Linked DNA regions of Homo sapiens. The protein of the gene in region 3 purifies or fractionates together with the protein of the main gene of each other region. This does not show direct contact. Each region holds a gene or a part of one and is shown on either strand. Other genes may lie near its edges. The genes, in order: BLTP2, VPS13C, DNAJC7 and STIP1.

What was found.
Region 1: the proteins of DNAJC7 (region 3) and BLTP2 purify together in Homo sapiens (co-immunoprecipitation; 4 studies listed by BioGRID and IntAct, with this or other methods). This does not show direct contact.
Region 2: the proteins of DNAJC7 (region 3) and VPS13C purify together in Homo sapiens (co-immunoprecipitation; 5 studies listed by BioGRID and IntAct, with this or other methods). This does not show direct contact.
Region 4: the proteins of DNAJC7 (region 3) and STIP1 purify together in Homo sapiens (affinity purification with mass spectrometry; 4 studies listed by BioGRID and IntAct, with this or other methods). This does not show direct contact.

Annotation. Positions count from the first base shown.
Region 1 is NC_000017.11:28,614,151-28,621,173, reverse strand, and holds the end of BLTP2 (bridge-like lipid transfer protein family member 2 isoform 1 precursor), read left to right. Parts: intron 1-3; coding exon 4-186; intron 187-543; coding exon 544-665; intron 666-1,158; coding exon 1,159-1,314; intron 1,315-1,398; coding exon 1,399-1,520; intron 1,521-2,202; coding exon 2,203-2,383; intron 2,384-3,796; exon of another isoform or gene 3,797-3,855; coding exon 3,856-3,942; exon of another isoform or gene 3,943-4,174; coding exon 4,175-4,285; exon of another isoform or gene 4,286-4,420; coding exon 4,421-4,556; exon of another isoform or gene 4,557-4,664; coding exon 4,665-4,795; exon of another isoform or gene 4,796-4,889; intron 4,890-4,976; coding exon 4,977-5,078; intron 5,079-5,375; coding exon 5,376-5,510; intron 5,511-5,927; coding exon 5,928-6,110; 3' UTR 6,111-6,728; downstream 6,729-7,023. Other genes in the region: RSKR (ribosomal protein S6 kinase-related protein), read left to right, coding at 7,013-7,023. UniProt on the Homo sapiens protein: Tube-forming lipid transport protein which binds to phosphatidylinositols and affects phosphatidylinositol-4,5-bisphosphate (PtdIns-4,5-P2) distribution.
Region 2 is NC_000015.10:62,057,425-62,064,723, reverse strand, and holds the start of VPS13C (intermembrane lipid transfer protein VPS13C), read left to right. Parts: upstream 1-4,276; 5' UTR 4,277-4,349; coding exon 4,350-4,449; intron 4,450-7,299. UniProt on the Homo sapiens protein: Mediates the transfer of lipids between membranes at organelle contact sites. Necessary for proper mitochondrial function and maintenance of mitochondrial transmembrane potential.
Region 3 is NC_000017.11:42,014,433-42,021,743, reverse strand, and holds the start of DNAJC7 (dnaJ homolog subfamily C member 7), read left to right. Parts: upstream 1-4,304; 5' UTR 4,305-4,327; coding exon 4,328-4,404; intron 4,405-4,581; exon of another isoform or gene 4,582-4,704; intron 4,705-7,311. Other genes in the region: NKIRAS2 (NF-kappa-B inhibitor-interacting Ras-like protein 2), read right to left, coding at 73-166. UniProt on the Homo sapiens protein: Acts as a co-chaperone regulating the molecular chaperones HSP70 and HSP90 in folding of steroid receptors, such as the glucocorticoid receptor and the progesterone receptor.
Region 4 is NC_000011.10:64,182,233-64,189,172, reverse strand, and holds the start of STIP1 (stress-induced-phosphoprotein 1), read right to left. Parts: upstream 3,003-6,940; 5' UTR 2,912-3,002; coding exon 2,903-2,911; intron 1-2,902. UniProt on the Homo sapiens protein: Acts as a co-chaperone for HSP90AA1. Mediates the association of the molecular chaperones HSPA8/HSC70 and HSP90.

The DNA.
Region 1 (7,023 bases), about 13 Mb from region 3:
CAGATTGGAACCAGCCAGCTGAGGCACAGCAAGCCCAGCAAGTCCAGCGGATCATTTCGCGTTGCAACTGCCGAATGTACTATATTAGTTACAGCCATGACATTGATCCTGAACTAGCAACTCAGATTAAGCCACCTGAAGTTCTTGAGAACCAGGAAAAGGAAGATCTCCTAAAGAAGCAGGAAGGTATTCAGGGCTTGAAAGGCTTTTAGGAAGGGACTAGAGAAATTGTGAAAGTAGTTATTTCCTTGGTGGTTTTGAGACAGTAGAGTTATTAAAAATCCACTGTGCACTGGCATTAACATTTCACTTTGCTCTACTTTTTGTAAGTTCTGCTATGAGAAAATAACCTCTATTCTTGGAGGGAGCTGGGATGAATGGGCATTGTTTATGATTCTGAAGTAAACATGTTTCTGCCCATGAGCAACTCTCACCCTTTCTGTGGGGTTGACTAGTGGGGTGGTTCCAAATGTGGGTTAAGAGATGGAGTAGATATTTAGGTAGAAACTTGAGCCTTTTATTTAGCTGCTAACAATTATCTAGGGGCTGTGGATACCTTCACCCTTATCCACCATGAGCTGGAAATTTCCACCAACCCAGCTCAGTATGCCATGATCCTGGACATTGTCAACAACCTGCTGCTCCATGTAGAACCTAAGCGGAAGGTGAGCATGGGCCCTTGTAGAATGCTGGTTAGCCTCACAGGAACACCCAGACTTTGTGCTTTATTTGGGCTTCTGTAACAAAAGCCATGCTTCACACTGAAAAAGGGCCTTGTGGTTGGTAGATTCTCTTAGTCGGCAGTGACAATTGAAATTCCACTTACTTAGGAAAGGCCTGAATATCTCTCAGACCGTAGGGCTTGTTTGCCTGATTGTTTTCTCCTAGTCATTTCTCTACTCAGTCACCTAGACACCTCTAAAAACATTTACTATTCCCTGCTTCCACCTCCATCCCATCCTGTTGGGCCTGACCTATTGTGAAATCCACATTGCCACATTTTCTGCATTGACCTACTACTGTTGCTATTACCAGTGACAGATAAAGGTTAGCTTTCTAGAAGAGACCCCCCCCATTTCTTTCTCCTTTCTCTATTTCACTTTACTACAAGACTTGTCTACTTAAAAATCATATTCATTTCCCTTTCCATTCCTTTAGGAACATAGTGAGAAGAAGCAACGGGTCAGGTTCCAGCTTGAGATCTCTAGCAATCCAGAGGAGCAACGCAGCAGCATACTGCATTTGCAGGAGGCTGTGCGGCAGCATGTGGCCCAAATACGACAGCTGGAGAAGCAGATGTATTCTATCATGAAGGTAGTCACTGCAGATAGATAGTTTGAGAACCAGGAAGTCTCCTAGAACGAGGGCGGTCTCTCAGTTTCTATCCTGGTTCCCTAGTCTTTGCAGGATGACAGCAAGAATGAGAATCTGCTTGACCTGAACCAGAAGCTTCAGTTGCAGCTAAACCAGGAGAAGGCCAACCTGCAGCTGGAAAGTGAAGAACTGAATATCCTCATCAGGTGCCCCAGCATTCTTTCCTTGCCCTTTTCCAGTGCCCCAGCTAGAGGCAGTTCTCTTTCTTGCCCATGTTTTGACTGTCTTTAGGTCTAGTGTGCATTATCAAAGGCTGATGTAGGAGTAGGTTCAGACATCTCTTCCTGAATAAGAAAATGGGTAGTTGGGAAGGATCACTTTTTTTTTTTTTAGAGACAAAGTGGTCTCACTATGTTGACCAGGCTGGTCTGGAACTCCCGGGCTCAAGCAGTCCTCCTGCCTTGGCCTCCCAAAGTGCTGGGATTACAGGCGTGAGCTGGGATTACCACACCCAGCTGAAAGATCACTTTGGTGGCCTTGATACTATGCATCTGAACTGAAAATATCTTTTTTTTTTTAATGAACCTGACATAAACATATGAAAATGTCTTGAAGTTGATCAGTATACAGTTGCAGATAAAATTGTAGGAATTATTAGTGGGAAGACACTACTTTATCAAGAAGCTATAGAGCTGAAAGATGGGATTTGTGCTCCTATGACCTAGAATGTCAGGAGCAATAAATTCAGTGAAAAAAATGTAGGGACTGGCTAACCCAGAATAGGTTAATTTCTGGGTTTACCTCCTGCATCATTCTAGAGCATTCTATCCCACCCCCAACCCATGTGCTGTTTCCCTTACTGGCTTTGGCTCCCCTGTCCACTTACAGGTGTTTTAAGGATTTCCAACTGCAGCGGGCTAACAAGATGGAGCTGCGAAAGCAGCAAGAAGATGTGAGTGTGGTCCGTCGCACTGAGTTTTACTTTGCTCAGGCACGGTGGCGCCTGACAGAGGAAGATGGACAGCTGGGAATTGCTGAATTAGAACTGCAGAGGTTCCTCTACAGCAAGGTATCTGGGGTATATGGTCACACAAAGGCAGCTGTATTGAGAGACATTGACCTAGCTTAGGAGTCTAACTCATAAAAGAGAAATAAAAGGGGGTTAATTATTGTATGATTATTAATGATAGTATCATTAATATTAACGAGCTCATTAATCATATTAATGAGCAGAGCTTCCTTAGATATATCTGTTTATAATGAATGATACACATATAGCTCTGATGCCATAGGGGGAGAGTAAGAATGAACAAAGAAATAAAATAATTTTTAAAAAATGATACAGGCCACGTGTAGTGGTTCATGCCTGTAATCCCATAACTTTGGGAGGCTGAGGTGGGAGGATTGCTTAAAGTCAAGAGTTCAACAAAAATTTTAAAAATTAGCTGGGCATCGTGGTGCATACCTGTGGTCCCAGCTACTTGGGAGGCTGAGGCAGGAGGATTGCTTGAGCCCTGGAGTTCGAGCCTGCAGTGAGCTGTGATCACACCACTGCACTCCAGCCTGGGCAACAGAGTGAGACCCTGTCTCTAAAAAAGAAAATAAATAATTAAAAACATATATGATAGGCCGGGCACGGTGGCTCACACCTGTAATCCCAGCACTCTGGAAGGCCGAGGCAGGTGCATCACCTGAGGTCAGGAGCTGAAGACCAGCCTGGCTAACATGGTGAAACCCCATCTCTACTAAGAATACAAAAATTAGCCAGGCGTGGTGGTGCACGCCTGTGGTCCCAGTTGCTTGAGAGGCTGAGGCAGGAGAATCGTTTGAACCTGGGAGGTGGAGGTTGCAGTGAGCCGAGATCGTGCCACTGCACTGCAGCCTGGTGACAGAGCAAGACTCCATCTCAAAAAAAAAAAAAAAAAAAAGAAAATTGGGTGTGGTGGTGTGTGCCTGTAAGCCCAGCTACTCAGGAGGCTGAAGCAGGAGAATCGCTTGAACCCAGGAAGGAGATGGATGTTGCGGTGAGCCAAGATTGTGTCACTGCACTTCAGCCTGGGCAACAGAGTGAGACCCTGTCTCAAAAAAATAAAAATAAGATACAGATACAGGTGAGTTTGATCAGATGCTTCTCTTGTTGAGTAAGAAGATGATCCCTAGAAGTATGGCCCAGAGGCAAATAATCTTTCATGTCTAGCTTGGAATAGAATATTCTAATACTGACATTCAGCTTTTCTGCCATTGACGTAAAGAAGGCAGTATTATTTATTACTTTCTCCTACCAGAGGCGTTTGGAAATGAATTAGAACATTTTTTAATGTCACAATGGCTAGATAGTACTACCAGCATTTAGTGTCCTGGACAATAGTGCCCATGAGACACACTGGATTAAAGAGTGTTGATTGTATGAGTTTGAAGGAGATCTCAAGGTTGGGATTAGGCATATGTAGAGCCTGAAAACAAACTGGATACATAACAATTGTCTAGTAGACTTCTGAGAAAGGTTTATTATAGTAGATGGGGCAAAATCTGTCTTTATAGGTGAATAAGTCTGATGACACAGCAGAACATCTTCTGGAGTTGGGCTGGTTTACCATGAACAACCTCCTCCCCAATGCTGTCTATAAGGCAAGTCTTTTTTCCCCTTTCCTAGTCCATTTGCATGTTTTTAGCACGGGGCATTTATAACGGCCCTTCAGTATAAATCCACTATGGAAAACAATGTGGTGATCTGAGAGGGTGAAAGCTTGCCCAGCTTAGCAGTACCATTGCTTCTCCTCTCATTCTGCAGAGGATTTGTGGGTTGCTTTATGGCAGGAAGGACATTGGGTTGGGCTCTTCTTTACTCTCTATCCTACAGGTAGTACTGCGGCCCCAGAGCTCCTGCCAGTCTGGGCGACAGCTAGCTCTCCGCCTCTTCAGCAAAGTTCGGCCCCCTGTTGGGGGTATCTCTGTTAAGGAGCATTTTGAGGTTAGTAAGCAGTCCCTTAGGGACCTGGGAACAAGGGACATTCAAAAGCCACCTGTGTGTTACACGATATTAGGAGTAGGTAAACTGATGATGGTATCTGAGCTTAATTGCTTCTTGAATCTTTTTCCTTTTTAGGTAAATGTGGTGCCTCTCACCATCCAGCTGACACACCAGTTCTTCCACAGAATGATGGGCTTTTTCTTTCCTGGCCGAAGTGTGGAAGATGATGAAGTTGGTGATGAAGAGGATAAGTCCAAACTGGTGACTACTGGTGAGAACTTTTATGGTGGAGCCCCAGAAGAATAGGGTAGCAACCCCAAAGACAGCTGAGACTTCAGAACGAGGATGGATGACAGCTGGTACACTTGCTTTTTCATAGGAATACCAGTGGTGAAGCCTCGGCAGCTGATTGCAACAGATGATGCAGTACCACTGGGCCCTGGGAAGGGTGTGGCACAGGGTTTGACTCGGAGTTCTGGGGTCAGAAGGTCATTTCGCAAATCGCCAGAGGTACCAAACATGCCCCTGATGATAGAAAAATGGGAGAGTCTTGAGGTCCTGTTTGGTGTGGCTTGGGATTTCTTCGGTTTCCTCTAAGTCCATTCTAGGGATAAAAGAAGAGGGAGATGTTTGGGGTCCTGAGTTTCTTCTGATGGATTCAGGGCTCACACTCCTTGCCTGCCTTTCTTAGCACCCTGTGGATGACATTGACAAGATGAAAGAGCGAGCTGCCATGAACAACTCCTTCATCTACATAAAGATTCCACAGGTTCCACTGTGTGTCAGCTACAAGGTCTGCACCTCTCAAGCACTTTGTAGAACAGGGTGGGAAGGGAACCAGATAAGATCAGAGATTCTATACAGGGAGACAGCTAGGTTGTTTGTGATGCTGAGCTGTGGGTGATAAATCTGCTGTTCCCTCTGCTCCCCTCAAGAGTCAGCATCATTACGAGGCTGAGGTAAGGGGAAATCAGTATCTGTAGGTTACTATTGTAGGACTTGGCACTCAAGTGGCTGGCTGGGACTCAAAATGGCAGCTGATGTATTCCCCACCCCTCTTTTTTTCTTTCCCCTCCCCCTCCTCTTACAGGGTGAGAAGAACAGTGTGGACTGGGGTGACCTTAACCTGGTGCTGCCCTGTCTGGAGTACCACAACAACACATGGACATGGCTAGACTTTGCCATGGCTGTCAAAAGGGACAGCCGCAAAGCCCTGGTTGCCCAGGTATCCCGCCAGGGCTCATGGCTGTTTGGCTAATGGGGCTGGCAGGCAGATCCTCTTTTCAGGAGCCTTTCATTTTAGAATCCATGAATAAATATCCTTGGGAAGGGGCAGGTGCATGAAGTGAGTGGCTTCTATGCCTACCCTCTCCATGACCTCACTCAGATTATTAAATTCAGTGTTTACTGAGTGTTTCGTATAGCACCATTGATTTTAGGGAACTGAGAGCTAACACAACCTAAAGTTTAGAAGGGGTTATAATTAGACTGTAAGCTTCTTGAAAGCAGAGACCATTGTATGTGAATTGCCCCATTGTGCCTTGGATGTGTTTAATAAATCTTTATTGTCTTGGTTCATTTTGATTTATTCTGCCTGCCCACTAATATTTACATTTTCTTTTACTCCTCTCCAATCTGCCAGGTAATCAAAGAGAAGCTAAGGCTGAAGTCTGCAACAGGCTCTGAGGTCCGGGGAAAGCTAGAAACTAAATCGGACCTGAACATGCAACAGCAGGAAGAGGAGGAGAAAGCCCGGCTCCTCATTGGTTTAAGTGTGGGCGACAAGAACCCTGGCAAGAAGTCCATCTTTGGCAGGCGCAAATGATTTGGCGATTCGAGTGGCTGCAGTACAGGATCTGACTCTGGCTCAGGCTCCAGGGACTTGTGGGGTGGGAGGGGCTTCCCGTTATCCACGAGGATTTGTGGGTGTCAGAGCCCATAGGCATCACTCTTCAGCACCTGGTCTGTTCGCTGCAGGGCATGGTGGACAGTAATGCTGAGTTCTGTCTCACACTGATCAGGCTCAGGGCCAGAGAGGCAACAAGAGAGCAAGACCCAGGGAATGGGCCCAGGGCAGGACCCTATTCCCTTGGGGTCAAGTGAAAGGGTAGGGGGATAGTCCTGATCAAGTGTGATAAATTTTTATAGACATATATAAATATATATATATTATATATATATTTCTAAGTGTAACTGTCCTTCCTCTGTGCCAGGAAACGGGAGGGGGCTGATCCTCTGATCCTCACTCCACTGTCATGTTTGAAAGAGGTATTGGTGTTCTGGAGTGGGGGTCAACCCCTCCCCAGTCTCTGTGCTAAGTTCACTTGGGAGGATGGCAGTAGGAGCCAGGGCTGGCCATGGGTCCCCTACCCTTCCCCGTAGGATATACCCTGGAGAATGGCAAAATGATTTAAAGAGAAAAAAAAAGATATTTTAAATTTGATGCTCATTTTTGTGTGTGTGTGTTGAGTGCATGCATTCAATCTGTGTATTCCTCCCTCATCAACCCAGAACATCCTGCAGCTGCCACTCTGAGGGTGGCCCCTTCCTTCCTCTGCCCTGAAGCTGTATCACAGAAATTTCTAGTCCTAGTGTGACTCTGGCCCCATGCTGATGGGTTTCTGCAGACTGGAAGAGGCGGGGCTCGTGTCACGCAGCATCAGGGAGAGGAATTGCTTATATAACTGGGACAGCAGATTTAGCAGAGAGAGGAGGCAGAGGCTGGGAATGGGAGCAGT
Region 2 (7,299 bases), on a different chromosome or scaffold from region 3:
TTTTTTATAGACATGGGATTTTGCCATGTTGCCCAGGCTGGTCTCAAACTCCTGGGCTCAAGAGATCCCCCAGCCTCGGCTTCCCAAAGTGTTGGGATTACAGGTGCGAGCCACTAAGCCCAGCCTACTTCTTTGTCTTGAAATCACCTCTACTCTTTGCCAAAATTCTTGGGCCAGGGCTAAATCTATGGGAAAAGTTTTATCAAATTATATACTTGAGGGCCATGTGCATGTGTTCTGACTCAGCTTTTCCTGGGAGACAAGAATGTTGTTAGCCCTGTTGAGAGCTCTTGGTTAAAGTGATTAGGAGCACAGATCAGAGTTTACAGTCTGAGAAGTTGGCTGAAAAGTTGTTAAGCAAGTTAATGAACCTGTCTGAGCTCAAGTTATAAAATGAGGGTAATAATACCGACCACATTAAGATTGTTGTGGGGGTTAAAAAGATATGCATGAAAATGCTTGGTTGGCAGTTAAACACTAGCTAACAGTTATTATTATTACTATCATTTTATTATGAATGTTTGCTTGGGCAGGGATTAGCTGATTCATACATGGATTCCTTTAAAAACATTTTTCTCCTCAGGCAAGCAAAGCAGATCTACTTTGTTTTTATTAATGATTCACCTTCTTTAGTAACACCTTAATAGCATTTCCTGTACATGATTTTTTGAAAATAGCAGAGATTTGCCATTGCGTGGCTGGTCCCTGTGACCCTGTTAAGCCTTATGTTTTACTTAACTCGGAAGCACGAACCAACCACCCAGTACTTGGGAGAATGGTGTAACAGGGTGCCCGGAACACACAAATCTACTCACAGGAAGACAGTGGCTGTTCCAAGCTCCCAGCTGTAGCTGTGGGAACATCCAGTATTGGAGCTGGAAAACAATTCTGTAAAGTGAGCATGAATAGACCACATACCATCAAGACCAGAGGTGCTCTAAGAGTAAAAGGAAATTAAACATTTTAAAGCATACTTACAAAAATATAGGAGGTTGAGTGTCAAGGAAAGCAAGAAGAGAGATTACAACCAATAAAACACCAGTGTTCTGACTTATGCATCTTGTTCAACACAACTAGAGTATGGGGTACTGGAAAGAATACAGAGCAGGGAGTCAGGACACTTGGGTTTGGGTTTTTGCTCTGACAGTCACTAACTTGTGGGACTTTGGGCAAACCCTTAATTCTCCCTGGCACTCAGTGTCTCCATCTGTCAATTGAGGGGGCTGGATTAACAGGATGATCCTCCCTCTGGCACTAACATTCTGAAATCCACTCCCGTGCTTTCTCCTAGTTAACCTCCCTAACTTTTCCTGCAGTCCATGGTGTCATGGCTTATACTCCAGCTTTCTCCTCCATTTCCTTTCCCCCAAATTCCTTCTGCTTTTCTCCAAAAACTCTAGGGTTGGGGAATAGGGTATGGGTGGTGGTTAGTGTGAAGTTTTTTTTTTTTTTTTAAACACTTTTGAGTTAATTTTTAAGTGTCCCTAACTTATACTTTTGTTTTTAACAGAAATACTTTGCTCATCTGTTTTTATTGTTTAGTCCCTCATTGAAGTTTAGTTTTGTAATTTCCTTTGTTGTCATTCTCATTGTTCTTAAGCCAGAATGAAGGCAAGAACTATAATTAATTAGAATGCTCATTTTCTTTAACCTCTGTTATCCAAATTATTTCTGATATAATGCCATACATAAGGGTGCTAATGGTGTTTCTTGACATTGGTTATAGTTTGTTTTAAATTGGGACTGTATATTTCTGACTTGTTAAATAATGGAAGATTTGGGGCATTACTGAATGCACATAATCAATCCCTTAAAACATGCTGAAAATGGAAAATAGTAAAATTTAAAGCTTTTTATACTACATGATAATAGCATTTTTTTGTACCAAAAATGTAGAGCCAAATTTTCCACTCTGAGATTTATTTTTTCTGTCATGAACCTTTCAAAGTAAGATCTCTGAAAATGACTAATAGCCCAGTGTTGATTAAATTGTATAATTACCAGAAGAGAAAAGGGTGGCAGTGCTCAGAGAATCAAAGGAAATTAATATCTGCTGTGTGACTTTGGGTAAGTCACTTAACATTCCCGAGCTTAATTTTTCTGTAAAATGAGGACCATACTACTACCTGCATTAGCTACCTCACAGCTCTTTTGTGAGGAGTACACAAAAATGCCTACCTTCGCATAATAATGACATGAGGCCTTACAAAGTATAACTGAAACATAATAAAATTGAATGATGCATATGAAAGCACATTTACACATTATTCTTTCAAAATTACCAAGTTATACCATAGAACTGTAAGGAATTACTTTATTAGACAAAGCATTAGTGTTACTCACTTCTCCCAAGAGATTGTGCCTATTGCTCCACCTGCTTGACCAAGCTATGTTGCCTGTGCCATCTTTCCTATCATCTTATACTGTTATTCATACATCCTTGGATTGGCTTCTTTCTTAACTTTTTATGGTACATGCCTTATCTCAACCAGAACATATATTGCTTCTTTACATTCCTCTTGGAGCATAGTCAGTGTGAATGTAAAAAGGAAGCGGGATTGTTAGAGTGTATGACTAGAAAGAACGTGGAGAAAGTTTGAAGAGAGTGTTCTAAACACTGGGAAGTTATTGGATGTTTTTGAGCAGGTGACTAACCTAAGCTCACCTGTGCTTTGGGAAAACACATCCGGTGTTCATGAGAATAGACTGGAGGAAGGAATAACTGGAGGCTAGGAAGTGAATTTCAAGGAGATGGATGGCATGGTCCAGAAGAAAAACATGGAGAATTTAGGAAAGATGGCAAAAGCAAAATAGACAGGTTAGGCTGTTATTTGGTTGTGGATGGTGAAGAAATCCAAAGTACTTACTAGTATTTTGTCTTTGTGACCAGCTAGGAAAAACAGACGGTTAAGGATTTATCTTCTTAAAGAGGAATGGAGTGTGCAAAAGTGGGAGAGGAATGTGATCTTGATAGTACTAGTTAGTACTGACTGGGTCTTTCTTTGTACTTTTAATTTTATTTAATACACAACACCAATTGTAGCCATTTTGATTTTCTTTCTTCTCCAGCGGACTTTGAATTTAAGATTTTTCTTTGTGATCCTGTGCAAGCCTAGGTTGTTTAAGAAAAATACACGAATAGTTTCTCAGACACTTCCTCGTAGCAAAGCACTTATTAATGCTTGTGACTACAAATAATCAGCATTTCTTAGGTTTCTTCCTGTGTACTGTATCTCAACAACTTTTTGAAATATATTTTAGGAAAAAATTTCTAGTTCTCTAAAGAGGTGAATCTCAATGGGTGGTTAAATTTCACAAGGGTTGAAAGATCTTGTGGTATAAAAGCTCTGCTTTTAAGGTCGTGCTACATCAAAGACAGTTCAACGATAGCATGGAAGAAAGTGATATATAAATAACAAGTAACTCATACTTAAAAAGGCACTACTACGTTTTGTTTTTTATATCTGTAATGAGATAGGTAACTGGTTAGTGGCTAGTGAATTAAAAGCGAATCTTAGAGAAAGGGGAAAAGAACGCGTTTCCCACAAAACGCGTATATTCAGTTCTCATTCTATGATATCTGCCATTTGATGTGGTTCTGTTCCCCTCCTCCCACTTTCAAATTATTTGTCGCGCGCCAGTGGTCCCAGCTACTCGGGAGGCTGACACAGGAGGATCTCTTGAGTCCAGGATGTCAAGTCTGTAGTGAGCTATGATCCCGACACTGCATTCTACCCTTGGCAACAGAGCGAGACCCTGTCTCAAAACAAAACAAAACAGAAACAAAATAAAAAAACAATGTTTTCAAGAAGCAGAGACCAAGCCCCAGGCGGAGTCGAACTCTAGCAGGACAAGAACGCGGTCGGTCCCTTTCCCCCACCTGATCCACAGGTGCAGGGGTGGTTGCCTAGGTGACGCTCAGCGCATACTCCAGGCCAGGCGGCTCCGGACACCGCGATGCGGCCGGAGTTCAACAGCAGGTGACGGCGGGAAAGCAGAGCGGCCACATAGATGTCCCTGTACTCGGTAACTCTTGCCCTCCCTTGTTCTTCTCGAAGGTCCTTTTTTTTCTCGTGCACGGCTGACGAGACAGGCGCAAGCTAACTTCCCCCGCACTCCTCCGTCGGCCTCTAGAGGGCCAGGGCTGCGGCGCCTACAAAGCCTCGGGATCACAGCTGGGCCTCCTTAGCTACCGGCCGGGCGACAGCGCGCCTGCGCACCGGCGGGGTCACGCGCGCGGCGCGGGGGTGGGCCTGCGCCGGAGGGGCTGTCATTTGCAGCGCTGGTCGCAGCCCTCAGCTGCGCCGGGCGGTTCCGGCTCCTCCCTCTCCTTGTGCCTCAGCGCCACCATGGTGCTGGAGTCGGTGGTCGCGGACTTGCTGAACCGCTTCCTGGGGGACTATGTGGAGAACCTGAACAAGTCCCAGCTGAAGCTGGGCATCTGGGGCGGTAAGCGAGAGGGCGCGGCCAGTGGGCTGCGGGCGCTGAGGGCCCAGCCGAGGGCTGCTCCGTCCGGGATTCTGCCCGGGCCCTGCTCCCTGCGCCGCCTGAGACTCCCCATCCCGGTGCGGCAGGTGCTAGATGCGGGAGCCTCTGCCGCCCGCGGATTCTCGGGGTCCCAGTCCCGACTCCGGCTGGGGAGATGCGGCGGGATCCCGCCCGCGCTGCCAAAGTTCCCACCTTTCTCGTCCCCCGAGGCCAAGCCCTGGCCCTGCTGTCCCCGCCCTGCCCGTTTCTGTGGTCCTCTCGCTGCACTCAGGGTGGCCCCTTTGGCCCTACAGCATAAAAACAGAGCCCTTTCTGTTTCGGTATCGCGTGGAGTGAGCATGGTTGTCTGGTCATATACGCTCGAAGTGGCACTAAGAAAAAAGGAGGAAGTTGCATCTCGCAGTTATCTTCACTATCATTTTACAGGGAGCAAGAACTGGGTTCCTTCTCTTTAGGATTACCGGGTTTGGAGAGGAACGGGCAGGAGATCTTTAAGATAGGCGTGTGCTTAGGGATTCTTACTCTTAATGCTTTCAGCTCCTGTGAAAATGATTTCTTCCTTTAATATTTACTTTTCCGTCAATACGAAGAGGATTTTGAATTTTGTTTTGGAGCAATAGAGAGAAATTCAAGCCTCGACCAGCATCGTCATTAATTAGGTGTCTGCTTGGTTGCATGCTCAGGAATTTATGCCAACGTTTTTATCCTGGAGATTAAGTGTATAAAAGTATTCAGGAAATAGTGTACTTAAACATACACTCTTCAACGAGCTTAATCGTTTGCATGAATTACGTGTTAAGCTTTGAGGACTTTGGGACTTTCTCACTCCACAAAAGGTTTGGGAACTTTGTCAGCTTTGGAGGAAAATTCAAAAAACGACTCAAATGTATGGATCTGCTTTTAATTCAAGCAACAACAAATAGCTATAGACTTCCCCTGTCCACTAGGGTAACCACTAGCCACTGTAGCTGTGGAGCACTTGATATGAGGTTAGTGCTAATTGAGACTTGCTGTATGAATTAAAACATCGTTTTGAATAAGCATTACTCCTAATGAAGTAGGAGAAAAAAATAATACCTCAATAATTTTTATGTTGCTTATGTGTTGAAATAATATTTGAATATATTGGGTTAAATTAAATATAATATTAAAGTGTATTTCCCGTGTTTTTTAGTTTTACTTTTTTTCTTTTTAAACTTGGCTTCTAAAATTTATAATTACGTATATGGAACATATATTGGGCAATGCTGTTTATACCCTGAATTACGGAAGAGCCTGGTTGTTGTTGTTGTTGTTTTTTTTTTTTGGCTTGTCTTTTTGAGACAAGGACTTGCTCTGTTGCCAAGGCTGGAGTGCAGTGGCAAGATCGTAGCTCATTGCAGCCTCCAACTCCTGGGCTGAAGTGATCCTCCTGCCTCAGCCTCCCAAAGTGCTAGGATTACAGGTGTGAGCTATAGTGCCTGGCAAGAGCCTGTTTTTAATAGGTGGCTGATCATTTGATTGGTTCACTGTGGTTTGCCCAACAATACAATAGTCCCTTGGTATCTATGGGGGATTGGCTTCAGTACCCCTGACCATACCAAAATTGGAGGTTGCTCAAGTCCCTTAAATAAAATGGCCTAGTATTTGTATGTACCCTATGCATATCCTTCTGTATACTTTTGGTCATCTCTGGATTGCTTATAATACCCAATAAGTAAGTGCTATGTAAATAGTTGTTCTGTTGTTTTTTAATTTGCATTTTTTTATTGCTGAATTGATACTTTTTATTTTTTCCCCCCGAAATATTTTTGGTCTGCAGTTAGTTCAGTCCGTGAATATGGAGGGCCTACTGTACATTCTTTGTTTACATCCCCCCACCACACTCAATACAATGTAAAGGAAAGGTAAGTAAAGAAAGACACATTTAAGGAATTAAATGACCAGCATCTTCTGCAGAAATCAAGTATTTCTTCAGAATACTGGCAATATTCTTTCCAGTGATTCCTTATAGTTTGTAAACATTTGAAACTTGAAAACGCACCGGAGTAGCAAATCTGAAATCTGAATAGGCCTAGTGAATGGTGTGCTGTGTTGGACAAGCCACTTACCTTATTGGGCCTTAGTTTCTTCATCTTAATTTAAACTTTATAGAAAAAATATTTTTAAATTCTGAAAAGTTTAAATCATACTGGATGATATAATACTTTCATGTAATTACTCATATTTCAATGTTATAATATTATGCCATATTTACTTTAGACATTTTCTTTTTAAAAAGATAAAACGTATGGATATAGTCAGAGGTTCCATTGCCATCAAATGTTACTCTCTTTTATCTTTAAAATTGGAGGTTGGACTAGGTAACATCGAAGGTGATGCCAATATTCTGTTCTTCTGATAATGGTTTTACCATGACATTGAGGAGTATACTGCTTGAAGATTTTGAAGTTTTTCACAACTGAAATTAAAAATGTCGTAATTTTATGTTATTTCCCCTTTTGTCTTTTTTTGGTGAAATCTAGAAAAGGAGACTTTCTTTCATCTCATTTTTAAATTTTTAGAATAAGGTATTCTGCCAGTGGCCAACATTAACTTTATAATAGGCCTGAGCAAATAAACCCATTTCTTTCACATATTGTGTCTAGTGAACATCCAATCAGGGATTCTCCTAGCTTTATCAGCTCACAACTCTGCCTCTGTAAAGCTTTGCTGCCTTTTATTTTTGTGGTTGCTATAAAGCTAGAAGTCACGAGCTTTTATCATTATTGCACAGTCTGTTGTTGATAACCCTAATTTCTCAATAAAATTGGAAGGCAAGATATCTGAGTT
Region 3 (7,311 bases):
TGTGTTGTGATCAAGTCCTATTCCTTATTTTTCAACTTCTTCCACTGTTCCTCCCCCTCCAACAACACTCACCCACTACATGGTTCCCATACAGAAGCTGCTCCAGGATTGAAGTTTTGCCCACAGACGCCTGGCCACACACGACCACCTTGCAGCTCTTCCCCATGCTTAGTTTTCAACCTTGAAGAACAGAAGCACGCTGGGTAAGGTGAGGAAAGAAAGCATCAACACAGAAGGCAGTTACTAGCAGATGTTTTCTGGTGGACAAAAACAAAAACCAAAAAAACAGAAGGCAGAACGTCCATAACTGAGAGTTCTAAACTGAATGTATAGTTCTAAACTGAATGTATAGTTCCAGGGTTTCAGCACCATCCCAATGCTAGTCAGAGGAAACGGATGTCTCCATGTCTACTACTGGATGGTAAGCTGTTATTTTATTCGTCTTTGTTATCCCCAGTACCTAGCCAGTATCTGTCACAGGGCAGGTGCTTGGAAATGCTGCCATAAAGGGAGAGGAGAGTCACTGGCCACTGGGCCAGGTTCCCTTCTGTGCGCAAGATGTAGAGGACCAATTAGTAAAGGGAGCTCAGCCCAGCTTCCTCTCTTTAACCATGACCCCATGGAGAATTAAGCAGGAACAGTGTTTTGTGTGGCTGTCTGAAGCCATCTGCTCCCTGGGGGGACTGAGCAAATAAAAAGGATAATCTGGGGCAGGGCACGGTGGCTCACGCCTGTAATCTCAGCACTTCGGGAGGCCGAGGTGGGCAGATCACAAAGTCAGGAGTTCGAGACCAGACTGGCCAACATAGTGAAACCTCATCTCTACTAAACATACAAAAAATTAGTCAGGCGTGGTGGCGGGTGCCTGTAATCCCAGCTACTTGAGAGGCTGAGGCAGGAGAATCGCTTGAATCCAGGAGGCGGAGATTGCAGTGAGCCAAGAATATGCCACTGCACTCCAGCCTGGGCGGCAGAGCAAGACTCCGTCTCAAAAAAAGACAATCTGCTTTCCTGTACGACTCATCTGGACAACAATCAATTCCCTCTAAACTCCAGTCAAGTCTATGGCTAAAATGAACATAAGACAAGAGAGAAAAGAATGAAGAAACCTACGGAAAAAAAGGCTTCAGAAAGGACATACTTTTTGCTGCCCTTGGACTGACAGACACAAAAGAGAAAGCTCAGATACAGAAACCCTAAGAGGTCCCAGACAGATATCTCCCCGAAGGCAAACTTCCAAACACAAGCCCCCCAAAAGCTCCAGACAAAGATCCCCCCCAGAGAGCAGAGATAGATCACTCCCAAAGACGGTCCCTAACAGAAACCTCTCCAGGGGAAGCTCCTGACACAGACCCCCTCTCCATATAGCGAGCCCCACAATAAAGGACACCATAAGAGTGGGCCAGAGGTGCCTCCGCCACAGATTTTCTCACGGGGGAGCCCCCAGAGGGAATGAGAGGCAGAGACCAGCCACCTAAAGCGGCCCGGAGGCGGAGGCCGATCCTAGCGCCGGACGAGCCTCGCCTCCCAGGTCCGTACCTCCCGGGGCCCCCGCAGCACCAGCCGGGCCCTCCGAGCTCGCGGGGACCAGGGGAGGGGCAGCGCCGCCGCAAAGGCTCCAGTCTTCCTCCAGAGTCGGTGTAGGCTCCTCCAGGCCCCGCCCCCGCCGCCTGCCCGCTCCCCAGCTTCCGTCAGGCAAGACGAATTCCGGCAGCGGAGAGAGAGCGCGGACCGCGCAGCTCCCCCAGAGGCCGGCGGGAGAATGACGGCCAGGACCTGGCCTGGGTGTGCGCGGGAGCCCAAGGTTCTAGACTCCCTGGACGCGGGCCGCTGGGTGTTCTGGTGTCTCTGAGGCCCAGATGTTCTCTCTGTAAAGGCGATCAGAGTACAGTAACTCTTCGTTTACTCAATCATTTATTCGTCAAATGTTTTCTGAGCATCATCTGTCTGTGCCTGGTGCAGGGCCATATACTGAGAGAAAGTGGACGAGTTAGACATGGTGGCTGCCCATCAGAACTCACGGTCTAGAGAAGCTAGATGTCTAACAACTACTGAGGTGCTGTGGAGCACAGCAAAAGGGCATTTAACGTTGAGTCAGCAGACACTGAAGGGCCTGGGGGAAAGGGTGTTCTAGGGTGGAGGAAACGGCTACAAGTCATGGCATTTTCTGAAACTATGAGAACTTGGGTTCAATATTGGTGGTAGAAAGGACCTAAATATTGGTACTCAAATTAAATTATTTAAAAAAAGAAACAGATAATCAAAGGCTTTGTGTGGTAGGCCAAAGAGATCAAATTGACGGCAATGGAAAGCCATTGCCAATGAAGAGACATGATCAGTCCCTGAGGAAGGTCACTCTGGCAGAAGAGGGAAGACTGAACAGAGATGAAATTAGAGACCGATTAGGAGACTATTGATGTATTCCAAGTTTTTTTTTCTGTTGTTTTGTTGTTGTTGTTGTTGCCGTTTTTGAGACAGGGTCTTGCTCTTTTCTCCATGCTGGAGTACATTGGTGTGATCATAGCTCACTGCAGCCTCTAACTCCTGGGCTCAAGTGATCCTCCTGCCTCAGCCTCCCAAATAGCTGGGACTACAGATGCATGCCACCACACCCAGCCTATTCCAAGATTTTAAAAAATGATGAGCGCCTGAATCGGGATGGAAAGGTGGAGATAGATTTGGGAAATATTTGGTAGGAGAATCAACAAAACTTGGCAACAAATTGGAAGCCAAGAGTGAGAATGGTTTAATCCATTTAACAAGATACGGAATTTAGGAAAGATAATAATTACATCCAACATTTGTTTTTTCTGTTGTTGAGGTGTGGGTAGACAATGAAAAAGTTAAATTTAAATATGGTAAGCCTTGGGGATTTGTGAAACATACAAGAGATATCCAGTAGATAGTTGGATATACAGCTGTGGAAGCTGAAGAAAGGTCTAGGTTGGAGATATGAAAAGTTGAGAGTCATCAACAGATGGAAGTAAAGCTGTGGGAATAAATGAGTTGCCTTAGATAGAACATAAAGTGGGAAGATGGTGAGACAGGTTGGCTAGCATTAGACTGGACTATGAGCCACTGGCAGGCAGGGCAGGTGGTCTGTAAGTCTTGTGCCCTCACAACCTAGCACAGAGTAGGCGTTTTGGAAAGGGCTGAGTGATTGGCTCAACGAATGACCCCTCCTTTCCAACCTAGTGAGCTTGTCCTATCCCTCCCTACTCAGTGGTCGCTGTGGTTTCAGCTCCCTCCACACTGGGATAGGCAGAGTATGAGCATTGGCACATGCTGTTTTCCTGGAACAAACAGGTAAATCCTTTTAAAATTCCTTTGCCCTCTTCTTATTTTACTCTTAGCTTTACATTGTAAAGCTACTCCTCATACTCCTCCAATTTAACCCCAGAAAGCTCCAATTTAATTCAGCTCCACAAATAGTCGTTTGGGTGAGGGAATAACAACAAAGACAGTTAAACTGTGCCCTTGTCCCCTATGAATTCTCAATCCAGACCGCATTCGGCAAGGCAAGCGTGATGAGTAGAGAGTTTATATAAGAGGTGGGAGTACTGGGGACACAAGAGCAAGGACCTCACCCCGCGAGCTTCCTTATAAACTCCAGGGCAGGGTCTGGGGCGCCATGTGTCAGCTTTCCTAGGCTTAATGCTGAGATGGCACTCCCAGGCGGCTGACATGAAAGGAGCCTTGTAAAAGGGTCAGCGTCATTAGGGTGATGAACCAGTTGGTGTTTGGAGATCCGGAGTGGATGAAAGGCGCAGGGTGAAGACGCCCTGCGTTCCCCTGGCTTGACTGGGCAGGGCTTCCAGAGAACGATGAAAGCTGGGGGAACTGAGCTCAAAGTGTCTCTTGACTTTCCCGGGAAGAAGCTGTGGACACACTCCAAGGTCGGAAAGGTAGCAGTGGGGACTCCTTCCCTACAGAGTCTTGGGTCACCTGGTCCCCACGCAACCCAGACTCCACGGAGCCTTTCAGGAAGACTCTCTAGGATTGGAAGTTGCTATGGCAATGAGGCTCTTGGAATACTGAAAGCAGCCAAGCCCTAGAGAGGCTACCACCGGTACACCCCGCCTTCCCACCCACGGGTAAAGTGGCGCCGCCTACGCACCGGCACAGCCCCTGGGCTCCCGCCCCGGCGCGGAGACCACCGTGGACATCCGGGGGCGGGAGGCCGCTCTGGCCCCAAGCGGAGCCTCTCTCTGGTAGACGAGCCCGAGGGAGCCCTTCTGGGCGCGGCGCCGCGGAGCTGCTCTATGCTCCAACCGGAAGTGCTCTTCACCGCCGGCCTCCCACCCAGCTCTCTGGTCCCGGCGGTAAGATGGCGGCTGCCGCGGAGTGCGATGTGGTAATGGCGGCGACCGAGCCGGAGCTGCTCGACGACCAAGAGGCGAAGAGGTAACCGGGTAGCAGGGTAGTAGAGGAGGCGACCTGCAGCTCCGTGGCTCAGGGAAACTCGTTCCTGCCATGATGCAGCCCCCAGCTGTTGAGGCGATGCCCCGCCCTCCGCAAACACCCCCCCATCTGAGATCAAGGCCGGATGGACCCCCTGAAGGGGCGCTCTTGGGGGTCGGCCTTCCTCTCCCGCTTCCGCCTGGCGTAGGAGCTGAGGCATGGCCTTGTTCTCCAGCTGAGAGGACGATCGTCCTTATAGGAGAGGCCGAGTCTCCGAGGGCAATTTCAGAGGTCTGGTGCGAGGTGGGGGAAGCGGCGCGGCGTCGATGACGACTTCCTTACATCGCCCCCGACCCCCGCGTTCTCTTGTTAACTTCTGTGCATTGTTGCCTGTCTGCACTTTCCGTCTCCAAAACCTTTGCTCTCCTCACCCCGTTTTCCCTTGTAATTATACCCCAGCGATCACTAGTCTGGGTTCGAAGTGATTGTGTGTCTCCATAATTGACCTGGTTGCCCCCGGTTATCCCAGAAGTCAAAGATGACAGAGAAAAAAAGGAAGAGCGAGGGGCTTATCTCGTGTTCTCTACGTCAGACTCCTCTTCCCCTGTCCTTCCTGGGTGATCTTTATCCTTCCCAGCACTGTTCTTTCTTAAGTTAAGCACCAAGGAAGAGGGCAACTGCTTGGGCGCTGTTGGCACTCCGAAGCAGCCGCAGTGGTTCGAGATTGCCAGTCGGACTAGCCAAGGGAGCTGCTGAGTGAGTGGTTTTCGAGAACGCTCTAGATTCTGGCAACAGTTAGGCCAGATTATTGGAAGTGGGGTTGGAACAGAGTTGTGGGTAGTCATACTTGTTCTAATCCTAAAGCAGAATTGACAAGAAGGTTCTAGAAGTTTGGAGCCCTTTCCTTATCAGCTGCGGGTTAGTCTGACCCTTTTGTTCAAGATATCTACAGTGCCCTCAGTCTCTTTGCAACATACTTTATATCTTCATACCAAGCCCGTTGTGTCTTCAGGCTGGGTAATTTGAGGCGGTGATGTAGAATTAGTTCATGAGATCTGAAATCAGGATTCTGAGATTTTTACTATCTAATGAGTTCGAAATATAAGAAGTACTCGGACGCAATGAATAGTTATCAAGCTTGAGGGTGGTTACCACAGCCAGATCTCAAGTTCCTGATCTGCTGGGAGCTGAGGGGCCTGACAAAGTGTAATAGGCCCCTGGGATATCAGAGAAGCCAGGACACCAGAGTCCAGTCTCTGTTCTTAATTTTGAGCTTTCATGTTGTTCCTACTTCTTCCTAGATATTTAAAGCTAAGCATCATCAACCCTTATACATCATTAAAGAGCTGCACAATGGGAAACAAAATTCCTCCCAGTGCAGACGGAGCTTAAATTAATTGTAGAGATTTACTTGTATTTGGAAAGAGTTCAGTGGTTCTTTATACTGTAAATAGGGATTTGGCCACAGGTTATTTATTTTTTATTTTTTGAGACGGAATCTCGCTCTGTCGCCCAGGCTGGAGTGTAGTGGCGCGACCTCAGCTCACTGCAAGCTCCGCCTCCTGAGTTCACACCATTCTCCTGCCTCAGCCTCACCAGTTGCTGGGACTACACGTGCCCACCACCACATCCGGCTAATTGTTGTTTTTTTTTTGTATTTTTAGTAGAGATGGGGTTTCACCCTGTTAGCCACGATGGTCTCGATCTCCTGACCTCGTGATCCGCCCACCTCGGCCTCCCAAAGTGCTGGGATTACAGGCGTGAGCTACTGTGCCGGGCTGGCCATAGGTAATTTTAAAAACTCACCCTACTCATTGTAAATCTCTGATGTAGAGTGTCCCTATTTTGGACTTCATTTCATAGCCTCCTATCTTAAGCAAATACATTTCTTCAATCACAGCCTTAGAGGATAGTCTATCATAAAATTGGAGTAAATGAACCTGAAGACATATAATAAAATAGGTTATGCTGTAATGTGACCACATCACACAAAACATGGTATTTGATAGCAGTACAACAAAATAAGGTAAACTACCTTATTTCATGGAATTTAAGTGTCATTAGGCTGGGTGCAGTAGCTCACACCTGTAATCCCAGCACTTTGGGAGGCCGAGGCAGGTGGGTCAGCTGAGGTCGGGAGTTTGAAACCAGCATGGCCAACATGGCAGAACCCTGTCTCTACTAAAAATACAAAAATTAGCGGGGCGTGGTGGCACACACATGTAATCCCAGTTACACGGGAGGCTGAGGCAGGAGAATCGCTTGAACTCAGGAGGTGGAGGTTGCAGTGAGCTGAGATCGGGCCATTGCACTCCAGCCTGGGTGACAAAGTGAGATTCCATCTCAAAAAAAAGTCATTGATTGCAGAATGCAAATTATTTTATCTGTCACTAAGAAAATGTAACTGTAAATTAAACATGACAACATGCATTATTCCTGTAGTTCAAATAGTGACAGAAAAAAATTAATTAAAAAAAGAAAAAAGACTGGGCGTGGTGGCTCACACCTGTAATCCCAGCACTTTGGGAGGCCAAGGCGGGTGGATTACCTGAGGTCAGGAGTTCGAAACCAGCCTGACTAATACGGTGAAACCCCATCTACTAAAAATACAAAAATTAGCCAGGTGGGGTGATGCTGTAATCCCAGCTAGTCAGGAGGCTGAGGCAGAGGTTGTGGTGAGGGGAGATCATGCCATTGCACTCCAGCCTGGGCAACAAGAGCAAAACTCCGTCTCAAAAAAAAAAAAATCAATTAAAAAAAGAAAAAAATGCATTCTTATCAGACTTTTATGTTTCTCATATATAGCACTGTTTTCGACAGACTTAAACATAGTTATTTATTATATACCACTTTTTTGCACAAATCAAAAGGAAAATTGGCTGGGTGCAGTGGCTCACACTTGTAATCCCA
Region 4 (6,940 bases), on a different chromosome or scaffold from region 3:
GCCAGGCTGGTCTTGAGCTCCTGACCTCGTGATCCACCCGCCTCAACCTCCCAAAGTGTTGGGATTACAGGCGTGAGCCAGCACGCCCGGCCCAGTTTTTCTTTTTTCTTTTGTATTTTTACTAGAGACGGGGTTTCACCATGCTGGACAGGTTGGTCTCAAACTCCTGACCTCATGATCCGCCCACCTCGGCCTCCCAAAGTGCTGGGATTACAAGTGTGAGCCACTGCACCCGGCCCAACTTGAGTATTTTCTAAACTGAAATACAAACCTCACAGTTGAAAATGAAAACAAAAGGTAGAGAAATCGTGTTTGTTTTCAGGAATGGCTTCCAGATGGTGGGCTCAAACACACCTGGGATTAAATGCCAGGTCATCTGTACAGCTGCCATGCCAGTTTGCTGTCCTAAGTCAAATATTCATTCACCATCTACCTACCTGTACATACACTTCTATCACCAGTAGTGGTAATTTAAAAACAAACATTTTAAGACCAGGCAAGGTGACTCACGCCTGTAATCCTAGTGCTAATGAAGTGGGAGGCCAAGGCTAGAGGATTGCTTGAGCCTAGAAATTCGAGACCAGCCTGGGAAACAGCAAGAGCCCCGTCTCTACAAAAAATGTTAAAATTAGCCAGTTGTGGTGGTGTGCCCAGCTACTCAGGAGAGTGAGGCAGGAGGATCGCTTGAGGCCAGGAACTTGAGGCTGCAGTGAGCTATGATCCCACCAGGGCACTTCAGCCTGGGCCACAGAACCAGACCCTGTCTCTAAAAAAAATACAAAATAAATTTGGTAACAGAAATCGTTTCTTTTCTTTTTTTTTTTTTTTTGAGATGGAGTCTCACTCTGTCACCCAGGCTAGAGTGCAGTGGCGTGATCACAGCTCACTGCAACCTACGCCTCCCGGGTTGAAGCAATTCTCCTATCTCAGCCTCTCCAATAGCTGGGATTACAGGCCTGCGCCATGACCCGCTAATTTTTGTACTTTTAGTAGAGAGGGGGTTTCACCATGTTGGCCAGGCTGGTGTAGAACTCCTGACCTCAGGTGATTCGCCCACCTTGGCCTCCCAAAGTGCTAGGATTATAAGCGTGAGCCACTGCGCCCAGCCGAGATCCTTTTTTTTTTTTTTTTTTTTGAGACGGAGTCTCGCTCTGTGGCCCAGGCTGGAGGGAGACGGAGTCTCGCTCTATGGCCCAGGCTGGAGTGCAGTGGCGCAATCTCGGCTCACTGCAAGCTGCCCCCAGGGTTCACGTCATTCTCCTGCCTCAGCCTCCCGAGTAGCTGGGACTACAGGCTCCCGCCACCACGCCCGGCTAATTTTTCTTCTGTATTTTTAGTAGAGACGGGGTTTCACTGTGCTAGCCAGGATGGTCTCGATCTCCTGACCTCGTGATCCGCCTGCCTCGGCCTCCCAAAGTGCTGGGATTACAGGCTGAGCCACGGTGCCCGGCCCCAGATCCTTTCTTAAAGGTAAAAGAGCAACGTCTTATTCCAGAAATCTTTTCCTCACCTATACTACAGCCCATTTAACCCTAGATACAACTGAAATATTATATGGGCACAAAAAAGTTTACTAACTTCATTTCCACTCTTTTTAATACAGCAAGGAAGCTCGAGCTTTGCCTAAAGCAGCAACTGCTACAAGAGACCAAAGGCTCAGCTCTGTAGCTCACACCAAAAAAAGGATGGTAGTCACTAGTCCATCGAGATGTCTTATTTAAGGGGAGAGTGTGGGCGATCTTAGTTTTATGGCCCTGAAGTAAGAACCAGATACCAGGTATAGTTTCAGAATTGTCACCCCCAAGTGTTATGGGCCCGGAGCGAAGACAGTAGTACTCCCGAGCGGGAGGATGATTTCTCGGAGGTTGGTAGAGGTTTCTTGGAGGTTGTTTTGTCCTTTTTCTTCCGATGAATCATTACAGCTCAATGACAGCTTCAAATCGAACAAAACCTCTAGGCCTTTCATAACCGCAAGCTACTGAGGACATAACCAAGTCACTGAAAGGAAGCAGCAACCGCTTCAAACTCGGCCCCTCAAATGCTCAGTAGAGGCCCATAACTTCCAGCGGTTGATCTCTGTAAATTGTCTACAACCACCCCCGGGTCGTCAGAAACCCATCTTTCAGACCCACCTTTCGGAAGTGTTGGTCCTCGGTCACTCGACAATCACACACACAAGCATACAAAAAGAGGGGGAGGGGCCGCAATACATTTGTAAAACACTGTCAGAGATGGAATTCGTCCCAAGGACTTTTGCGGCACCCTTCCCTTTCCCGCATCAGGTAGAGTCGGTCTGTCGCTCCTCAGACCCCCGCTCAACGCTCTCCCACCCTGACCTTCTCAGATGTAGAAGAGTAACATTTGCCCCAACTGCATCCCAGGCTGCTAAGATCCTCGGCTACTCCCAGTGTATCCCCGTCCCCGCTCCCTGGATCCGTCCAAGTTCCTCGTGGCTAAGTCCCGAGCGGTTTCTCCGTCGGCCGTCTGAGATCTCCCGGAGGGCTACCTCGCGGGTGCGGACCCCGGCCCCCGGCCCACCTCCACCCCGCCCCCTGCGGCCCGCACCCTCCCCAACATGGCCCGCAGCCGCCCCCTCGGGACGCCTTCAGGGCCCGGTCGCGACCCCTCTTCCCGCCGCCGGCCGGACTCACCCAAGCTGTGGCCTCCGCCGGGCCCTCCTCGCCCAACCAGGGGGCGATGGGCGCTCCCCGCGGCCGGCCTCGCTAAAGATCCCGCTCCCGCCCGCCGCCCGCGGCCCTCACCTCCCCGCCGCCGCCCCGTCCGGCCCCAGCGCCGAGCTCCGGTCTCCTGGATCCGGCGCCCGCCCCGCCCCCCTACCGCGGCCTGGCCACCGCCGGTCCCCGAGCAGGCTCGGGGCCTCAGCCCGCCCCTCCCCCTTCACCTGCTCCATAGCGCAGCGCGGTCCGGAACCCCGTTGAATCGAATCCGTCCGCTCCGCGTTCCCAACCGCACGCGCCGCCTTCTGGAACCTACTAGAAGCTACCGGGACCCCGGCTCCCGCCCCTTCCTCGCCTGCTCACTGGTCGAGTTCTTCTAGGGGGAATGTCTGTGCTGCTCTACTATTGGCTTGAGGTCCAGCCCATCATCTCCACTTCCTTCTCATTGGACAGCGGGGAGTAATTCCCTCAACCCTGCCTCCCCCGCACCTCAGGATTGGGCGCTCCTCTATAAACCCACCCATCTCAGGCTCCACGAATGGAGGGAGGAGCGAACTTCTGCGACACGGATTGGTCTTTTGCACTGCCAATCGTAGCCGCGCTGGCCGCGCCCATTGGTTCTGATCGTTCTGGAAATTTCCACCTCTCCCATTGGGCTGCCGGACTCCATGTCGGAACCGCCTTCAGAATGAGAGCGATTCCAATTGGGCGGAGGGTTGCCAACTCTTTGCGCTGATTGGTTTAAATCGCTGCCCTTCAAAAGGCCGGGTTTCGCCCCGCCCCTGATATATGGGAGTACCGGCTGCAGTCGGGGTCTGTAGCTGTGTCGCCGGCGGCTGCGGGGCCTCTGGGTTGCTTTCCCTCTCGCTCCCGAGTGCCGCGAGTTCCAGGCGGTCCCCGGGATCGCCAGCGGCACAGGGCCCCAGCCCTTCGCCCGCGCATCGGGATGGGGGTCCTAGCCGGTGGGAGCTGCCTGTCCCTCGAGCGCCAGCTACCCGCGTTGTCCAGCGCTCCGGCCTCGGCCCGGCCCTCCTGCCTCCTGGCTGTTAGGTTCTGAATGTTCCGGAAATGCCACGTGACCGCGAGGGCGCTTGGGCTTGGGCTGGACAGGCCGGGGATCTCACCGCGGCGGGCCCGGCTGTCCCGCTTGGGCGTCCTCAGTGGAACCGCACACCCTTTCTCAGCGCGCCGGTCGTTTGGTCCTGTAGGGCCGAGGGGAATTCGTGCGGTGTTGAGCACGCGGGAAGCACTTAACGAAAGGGAGCTGCCCCTCAGCCCTCGTGAGTCCGATGTAAAGGAGTGAAGGAGACGAAGAACTGAATCAGTAGTTGACCGCCTGTGAGCTGGCGAGCTGTGCCCTGGTAGGGCCTTAAATCCCAGCCCCAGAAGTCGGAGGCAGGGCAGGCACCCCAAAGCGTGGAAGAGATGCACCTGCGGAGTGAAAATGCTGCTATTGCTTCTAGGGTCAGCCTTGGTTCCTGGAACAAAGGAGCCGCATGACTCGGGTCTGGCGATGATGTTGGGCTCTGCAGTGTCCTCATCCTTCCCCCTCTCTGGGTAATGATATCTTCCCAGGGTTTAAAGTGTGTCCTCTCTGCCAGTAGCTTGTCTCCACAGCCTCATCTTTAATTCCACCTGCCCCACCCATTTTGGACACTGCAGCCAAGTTGCAGCAGATCCGCAAACCTGGTAATCCCTCACTTGAAAGTGCTGGAGGCTTTAGGATGGGGTTCAGGGCCTGTGCAATCTAACCGCCTGCTTTTTTTTTTTTTTTTTTTTTTTTTTTTTTGAGACGGAGTCGAATCTCACTGTCTCCCAGGCTGGAGTGCAGTGGCGCCATCACAGCTCATTGCAGCCTCAACCTCCTGAGCTCAAGCCATCCTCCCACCTCAGCCTCCCAAGTACCTGGGGTTACAGGCAAGCACCATTACGCCTAGCTAATTTTTCTGGGTTTTTTTTTTTTGTTTTTTTTTTTGTATAGATGGATTTCGCCATGTTGTCCAGGCTGGTCTTAAACTCTCGCTCTGTCTCCCAGGCTAGAGTGCAGTGGGGCAATCTCGGCTCCCTGCAACCTCTGCCTCCTGGGTTCAAGCAATTATCCTGCCTCAGCCTACCAGTTAGCTGGGATTACATGTGTGCGCCACCGCGCCCGGCTAATTTTTTTATTTTTAGTAGAGGCGGGGTTTCACCATGTTGACCAGGCTGGTCTCAAGACTACTGACCTCAAGTGATCCCCCCCCCCCCCCGCCTCGGCCTCCCAAAGTGCTGGGATTACAGACGTGAGCCACCGTGCCCAGCGGTTTTGCATTTTCAATTGTGGGGCACGGTGAGAAAAGACTTGAAGAAAGCAAGGGAGTGAGATCCATGGAAATGTAGGGGGGAACCTTGCAGGCCTATGGAACAGCCAGTGCAAAGGGCCTGGGGTGGGAGCTGCCTCAGGGTAGCCAGGATGGCAGGAGGCACAGCTGCCGAGAGGAAGCAGGGGCCAGGTCCTGCAAGGTTAGAGGCCATTGCTACTCCTGAACACATTGGCAGGTTTTGAGCAGAGAAGTGACATGATTTTAGTTTTCTCAGGATCCCTCTGGCTGCTGTGTGGAGGAAGAGGGGAGGGTGAGAGCAGGGATACCTCTTAGGAGGCTGTGGTAGTAATCCCAGGGAGCCAGGATGGGAGCAGAGGAGGGGACAGGAATTGGATTCTGGATGCATTTTGGAGGGAGCATGAAGGAAAGCGGGGTCAAAGGTTCCTCTGAGGCCTTGGCTGCCTCTCTTATTCATCTACATCCATTCTGTCAAGGACACCTTTCATTTCTTCTTGGCACTGTCTCAAGGCCACCACGCTGCTGCCCACCTGACCAGCAGTGGCCTTTCCAGGCCTTCCATCTTCTCCCCAGCAGCTTATCTCTGCGTAGCCAGGTCCCATTTCCCACACACCTTTTTTTAAAGTGTGTTGCACTGCTCTGGGTGCAGGACTGTAGCAGTGACCAGGGCAGCTCCAGATGAAGCTTCTGCTCACAGGAACCTTTTCTACTGAAACAGATGATACCTAAACTCTCAGCTGTGTGACTTTAAGCAACTTGCACAACCTCTCTGTACTTCAGTTGCCTCCATCTTCAAATGGGGATTAAAAAGTGTTGACATCATAGTGGTTGTGAGGATTACATGATTTGATAGTTTATAAAGCACTTAGAACTTGTGAAGAAGAGTGCCTGGGGATTGCCTAAGGTCAGGAGTTCAAGACCAGCCTGGCCAACATGGAGAAACCTCATCTCTGCTAAAAATACAAAAACTAACCACGCATGGTAGTGCACACCTCTAGTCCCAGCTACTTGGGGGGCTGAGGCAGGAGAATCACTTGAACCTGGGAGGTGGAGATTGCAGTGAGCCAAGATTGCGCCACTGCACTCCAGCCTGGGCAACAGAGCAAGACTCGGTCTCCAAAGAAAAAAAAAGAACTGCCTGGCTACGGAATAAGAACTACATGGAGTTATTAAATCAAAATCGGTGCACAAATGATAATTCTTAAGAGTGAGTGCTACAGAGAACACAAAAGGCAAGGCACAGAGAGATGACCTGGGAGGCAGGGAAGGAAAGCATTCCCAGAGGTGAGTGGTTAGTGAAGGCTTGTCAGAGATGGGACGAGGAGAAGCCTAGGGGGCACAGAAGATGCAAAGGTGCTGAGGCCAGGGCAAATTCAGAATTTTTTTTTTTTTTGAGATGGAGTCTCGCTCTGTCTCCCAGGCTGGAGTTCAGTGGTGCAATCTCGGCTCACTGCAACCTCCACCTCCTGGGTCCAAGCAATTATCTGCCTCAGCCTCCAGAGTAGCTGGGATTACAGGCATCCACCACCACGCCCGGCTAATTTTTGTGTTTTCAGTAGAGACAGGATTTCACCATCTTGGCCAGGCTGGTCTTGAACTCCTGGCCTCATGATCCACATGCCTCAGCCTCCCAAAGTGCTGGGATTACAGGCGTGAGCCACCGCGCCCAACCCAGAATTCTCTTTTTTTGGGGGGGGGTGGGGGACAGAGTCTCACTCTGTCATCCAGGCTGGAGTGCAGTAGCGCGATCTTAGCTCACTGCAACCTCTGCCTCCCAGGTTCAAGCGATTCTGCCTCAGCCTCCCGAGTAACTGGGATTATAGATGCCCGCCACTACGCCTGGCTAATTTTTTTTTTTTTTTTGTATTTTTAGTAGAGATGGGGTTTTACCATGTTGGCCAGGCTGGTCTCAAACTCATTACCTCCAGTGATCCACCTGCCCTG